Linked DNA regions of Homo sapiens. The protein of the gene in region 1 interacts with the protein of each later gene in a pairwise test. Each region holds a gene or a part of one and is shown in the gene's direction. Other genes may lie near its edges.

Region 1 (3,024 bases):
TTTTGTGCATTTGGTTTTCTTTCTTTTCTTAGATTTCTATAGGAAGCCACTGCCTCCCCTGGCTGTGCCACAGCGACCTAACAGTGATGCTCATGATGTGATCTCATAAACAAGACGTATGGAGGAGTTCTCTTAATATCAGCAAGGTGAACTGGGACATTCTTCTTTCTCAGAAGAAGAAACATCTTGTAAATTGATGACTGGGGCAAGATAACCATAATAATTTTAGTGAGAAGATTAATACTCAAGGACCTGACTTGATAATTACTTATTTGTGTTTTTCATGGTTAAAAAAATAAAAGAAGCACAATGACCAGTACATGAAATCAGCATTTGGACCAAATTAGCAAGATTTACTGTTGACTCTGGTTTATACATCCCCACTCATGAGCATACTTCTGAAGGAAAACTTTACAAAAAGAGCCAATGGACTCAGCACTTTCTTTACTATTTGTTCAATAGCCTATATTTCTAGATATTAAATATTTTTTGTAAGATATATGCACATAGAAGGGGGACTTCTAGGAATTTATAACCAAAATTTTAAAACTATTTTTATATTTTTTTAAATCTTTAAAAATTTTAATTACTGTGATATTGATTATACACCTTTTTTATAGATGATTTGTTTAAATTATATCTGGAAAATAGAGTTGATTTACTTTCAGACATGAACTATACAAACAGGATATATTTATATGGCTTGAGGTATGTTTTGTAATAGCGTTGTTCTTTAAGTGTACATCGTAATTTGACCTAATTTAAAAATAATATATTTTCGAAGTAGTAGATTCTCAGATCTTTATTCTAACAATTACATGATTTGAAAACAGTACTCAATGAGACTGGAAATACCTTTTGTACCTAAATGTTTTTTAAATTAATCAAAATACATTCTGTGAGATACTATTAAAAGTCTCAGTAAAGTCCTATTTTAAAGGTTAGACACTTTCAGAGATCAAGGTGCTCCCTATACTCCCTTGTTCCATCAGAAGCTGCAGTGACTCTTTTAGGTGATTCTAATTCTTTCATGCCTTGAAATTAAACTATGAAATTAAAGGCAGAAAAACTGGAAAACCTACTGCAGGTCCAGAGACTTCTGTTTTACAACTGGGAAACAGCTTGTGTACTAAAGTAATGAGAATAAAAATGTTGGCCCAAAATTACTTTTATAAATAAATAATTCCAAAATAATTTCTTAATTTAAAATGATAGCACTTCTCTTGCACTTAAGAATGGCATCCATAAGATTCTGTATTTGGCATTTAGACTAACTTCTAGATGTATATTTTTAATAATAGATTCATAATGTTACATTTAATTGAAAACAAACCTTTATATCCAATGAAAATAGTATAAACAGAATGATTTTTATACCACCTTGTTAAGATTGGTGCTTTTGGTAACTTGTACTGACACAACAGACATGTGCTAGTATCTGATAACATTAAGTACATTTTATGTCGTTTAATATAATTATTTACTTTAAAAATTGTACTTCAGAACATCAGATTTTATTCACATTTTTTAACTCACTGAACTTTAATAATCAGGTCACCTGTACTCTAGTCAGCACTGTATATATTCTTGGAGTTTGTACATGGGACTTAGCAACCACACTGAGTGAGGTAAAAGCATTTGATTTCAGATCTAAAATTCGTAACAACCTAAATTTGAGAGGTGGCTGAAATGTGATGAAAAGCAATACGAAAAGACAATGTAAACTTTGAAAAGGATTTTAGAGGGAAAATTGCATAGCTTTTTGTAACATTTACTTAATTTTAAAACTAAACTCATACTTTTGCTATCTTTTTAATATTTATCTCGTTTGGGAGTATACGTGTTTTTAAAATTTGTGTTTTCTATCTGTTTACTATAGTGTAGCTACTGGCTTCATTTAATAAAAATAAATGATTTTGAAATTAAATATAATATAGAATTCACATTTTATATAGCTCTCTCAAAAATTAATTTTTATTCCTTAAGCATTTTAAAAACATTTTAAAAAATGTTTTGTAAATCCAGGTGTATTTTAACAATTAAATGCCTATTTTGTTATATGTTATACTTTTATTCTTAATTCTGAATTTTGACATTTTCACACAATAAAAATAATTTATATCAATATTCTGTTTCTCTTTTCAATTGGTAGATTTAAATGATTTCCTTTGGGTAATAAAATAGGTAAAGATTTTAAAATATGATTATTGAAAAACAGTTTAAATCAGTAGATTAAAATAATGCATTTTTTTGATACTTTACACACAAAACTTTTTTCTCTCTGCAAGTTTTTATGTATGTGGGAAAGAATTTGTGATTTTAAATGCAGCTACAAATAGCATTTCACCATATGATGTTAGAGGATTTGATGTCTGTCTTGCGTTAAAGCTGTTGGTCAACAGATATGTTTTTATGTATTTAAAAGAGGCTCTTGTGTGCCTTTATGTGTAAAATGCATATTACGTAGTATACATGATATTGTATGTAACTGACTTCAAATATAAAACTATGCATAGAAACAACACTAGAAAGAAATGTAGTTTGGCTTACTTTTGTAGTGAGGGAGGCAAATTTATAATATTGTATAAATTATTTAAGTACCATGTTTTCTGCAAGTTTAAAATTAAGTGCTTTTATAAATGCCAGATTAAGACTACAATTCCCTTAATATGTAAAACCTGTGAACATCGTGGAGCAGTTCACCTGCAGAATACAACTAAAGAAATCAAATGCTTCTAGGTAGCAAAAGCTATTCACAAGCTAAATTGTTTATACATATAAAGCTGTAGCTTATAAACTTTATCATCCTTGGCTTTACTTAGTAAATTTTTTTGCTAAGTGGAATATGCTTTGCAACTGAGATTCTGCTAATAATGGTTTATTAATTTATCAGGAAGTATATTCCAACTGATCCAAAGAACAAATTCAAATATTTTAAAATTTTCAATTAAGCATGGCATAGGTTATCAAAATAGCAATAATCCTTTATCTTTACAGAAACAGAATAATAGATACCTGTTTTTT
Region 2 (3,500 bases), on another chromosome or scaffold:
TTGCTCTGATAGGGGCTGTTTTCGAACTATCCTTTTTAGTGCCTCAAACTAGATTCTGTTCAGACATGTGATAATAAGTTAGTATGAGTTTATTTTGGTGCAAAAATTTGAAACCCATGCATAGTTTTTAAATAATACATACTTTTCATGAACTTTTTGAAGATCCCTTGTCTTAACCTCTCTGTGCCTCAATTTTCTCATTTGCTAAATGTAAATGAAAATAATACTAACCTTCCTTTCATAAGGTTGTTTAATGAACAAATAGACATAACATACTTAGAACAGTCCCAGGCACATAGTAACATTCAATAAATGTTCTTATTTTTTCCATCACTGTGTGACAGAGATATTCTGAATTTTGCAATAGCAAGGATGAAAGCACACACATTAAGTTCTATTAAAATGTCAGGTATTATTTATTGTTAGGAGGATGGAGAAGGTGAGTGTTTTAGTCAGGAGTCTGAGTTGCAAATGACAGAAACTTGAATCACAGGGACATTAAGTCACCTATCCAAGGTCACGAAAGTCATGGTGTAATCAAGCTATAGTTCAAATCCAGGAAGTCTTGCAACAAGCCCATGTTCTTAACCGCTGTGCTGTTCTGCTCTTCTGTGAACCGAGTGCTGTGAGAGCATAGATATTGGAACTGACCAGGACTTTAGGGTGGGGGTCACAGGATAAAAATGGCCTTTACAAGATGAGTCATAATTCACTAGATGAAGAAGCAGAAGAATGTTCCTGGCAAAAGGAAAAGCATGTGCAAAGGCCCAGAGAATGACAAGCAGCGTAGACTGCTGAGAGAACTGTGTCCAAGATAACAGAGAAAGTGGGGAATGTGGGAAGCCTGTACTGGGACACACTGATAAGCTTTGAATGCCATGACTGTGAGTCTGGGGGCCATGGGGAGCCAGAGGAGGTGTTTGAGCAGGGGAGTGACATAATCTGAAGTGCATTTTAGAAGTATTCCTTTGACTGCTTATGTGGAGGATTCATGAAGACAAGTGCAAAAGTTGAGAAATAGTCTCAGTGAAAGCTGATGAAGTTTGACCTTAGTCAAGGGCAGTGCAGATGGAGAGGAGAGACCTAAAGACTCAGGCTCTAATGACAGAGCTTGGACTCTATTGTATCAGATCATGCCTGGGACCTCTCTCAACTGGGTTTGGCTCAGATAAACCCCAAATCCAGCTGGAGGACATGAGCCTTTTTTTGACTCAAATACAAAAGAGGCTTCCAGCATAGGCAAGAAGGCAGTCCCTCTCCTTCTCTGTGCCAAACACCTCTCAAATCCTAGCTCGGAAAGATGTCACCCTGTCTGAGAAGGCTTCTGTCTTAGATTGGGTCTTCAGAAGGACCCTGAGACAACAATTTGACTGCAAGGAATTTGGGGGCAGTGGAGAAGGGAAACAGTGAAGAGCATGGAAGAAATACAAGTGTGCCAATGAAGAGGTTACTACCAGCAGCAGTGACTCAGCCTTACTGGGGACTTCTGGGAAATGGTATTCGACATGCCTCAGTTATCCCACTGAAAGGCAACTGAAGTTCGTGGCTAGGAGCTACTCCTGGAGTGTTATTTCTTGGCAGTCTTGGCCAAGTGTGCTTCTGAAACCGGAGAAATCTGAAGACGTCACTGGTGTGAACAGGAATGATGGGCACTGAAGCGAGAGACGGAGGACTGTCTTAGTCCATTTGGGCTACTATAACAAAATACCTTAGACTGGGTGATATTTAAACAATAGAAATATATTGCTTACAGTTCTGGGGGCTGTGAAGTTCAAGATCAAGGCACTGGCAGATTCAGTGCCTGGTGGGGCCTTGCTCTTTGCTTCAAAGACAGTGCCTTATTGCTGTGTCCTCACATGGCAGAAGGAAGGCTCTTAGGCCCTTTTTATGAGGAAACTAATCCTATTAGTGAGGGCAGAGCCCTCACGACCTAATCACCTCCCAAAGTCCCTGCCTCTTATTACCACTACAATGGGGATGAGGATTCCATGTATGAATCTGGGGGGACAGAAACACTGAGACCATAGCAAGGAGGTGCTGAGGTGTCTGCCCTTCTCAGACCCCACTGGCTGACACAGCTGCCTTTCACCTTTGCTCCATAGCTCACTGTCTTAAACTCTGTTTTAGCCCTTGTCTCTCTGGGAGGTGAATGATTTGTCTTCATGTCTGTCTCCTTGAGCAGTGGAAGCATATGAACCAAGGATGGGCTAGGCACCAAACCTTGAATGCCTAGTAGAGGGGTGGACTACAGTCTAGGAATCTAGGACCAGGGATGGGCTGGGCACCAAACCTTGAATGCCAAGTAGCGGTGTGGACTACAGTCTAGGGGTCTAGGTGTCTCATAATAGACCTAAGATGAAAGTGAAACATCTTATAGTCATATCATTTTCAAAACGCAAAGATGAGGATTGTCTGAAGGGGTCCAAGAGTTAATTTATGGTATGTCTGGGCTTCTGTGGGAATTTGAGACTATAATCTCCACCGAGGACTCATATTTACAAATTGGGATACCTGTTGGTCTGGTGAGTGGTACACAGAACAGGATACATGGGGCATTCCTTCTTGGGTCAGCAGGAAGATTTGATAGAAAGTAATTGTATATTTTTAAAAGCACGAATTCATTGTGGAGCAGGATACCAAGCATGGGTGGAAGAAAGTCAGTTTTGCGCAGAATGTGATGCAGATTTCCTGGCCCAGGGGGTGATACATGGATGTTCTTCTGCCTGGAGGCCCACAGTGGTGTGCTGCAGCCAGCTTATGCTGGCTTGGGAAATGTGCTTGTCAAATTTTTAGGAATTCTAATAGCCAGTTATTAAATACAGACCTTAATACACACACACACACACACACGCACACACACACACACACACAAGTTTTTCAGAGAGCCAATTGTTCAACATTTACCAACACACATCTGTTGTTTGAGGGATATTTGGCAGAAAGAGCCTGGGAAGGTGATTTGGGTTTGAGAAGCACTGTAGTTTTTTTTTGTTTGGTTTTTAGAGACCAGGTTTCACTGTGTTGCCCAGGCTGGACTTGAACTCCTGGCCTCAAGCAATCATCTTCCCTAAGCCTCCCAAGTACCTGGGACTATAGGCACCTGACTAAGAACTGTTTATTGGTTGGCATGGCCAGATTTACTTGTTAAAAATTTAGGCTATGTCTTAGTCATTTTCCTTGTACCAGCTTCCAGCCCAGGGCATAAAATGTGGTCAGGAATAAAGTTTGCTAAATGGATGGATGAATGAATGATAGCTTGGATCAAGCTTTTTCTCTAAGTTGTAGAAACATGTTTTCATCATTCAACAGATATTTTGAGTGCCTACAATGTGCCAGGAACTGTTCTTGGCACTGGGAACACAATCCCTGCTCTCCTAGAGCTTGCATTCTAATAGAGGAGAAAACATATAAAGCTATAAAATCTGCTTTCAGGTGGTAACCGGTTACATAAAAGAACATGAAGCAGGATAATGGGCTGGAGACAGAGTTTCATGCTGCTT

The links. The genes of interacting proteins can lie anywhere in the genome.
Region 2: the proteins of ARL13B (region 1) and SLC13A3 interact in binary tests that used the Homo sapiens proteins (3 or more experiments, as listed by UniProt).

The regions. Positions count from the first base shown.
Region 1 is NC_000003.12:94,053,155-94,056,178, forward strand, and holds the end of ARL13B (ADP-ribosylation factor-like protein 13B), read left to right. Parts: intron 1-32; coding exon 33-109; 3' UTR 110-2,524; downstream 2,525-3,024. UniProt on the Homo sapiens protein: Cilium-specific protein required to control the microtubule-based, ciliary axoneme structure. May act by maintaining the association between IFT subcomplexes A and B. Binds GTP but is not able to hydrolyze fit; the GTPase activity remains unclear.
Region 2 is NC_000020.11:46,616,960-46,620,459, reverse strand, and holds part of SLC13A3 (Na(+)/dicarboxylate cotransporter 3), read left to right. Parts: intron 1-3,500. UniProt on the Homo sapiens protein: High-affinity sodium-dicarboxylate cotransporter that accepts a range of substrates with 4-6 carbon atoms, such as the citric acid cycle intermediates succinate and alpha-ketoglutarate (2-oxoglutarate), as well as other compounds including N-acetyl-L-aspartate.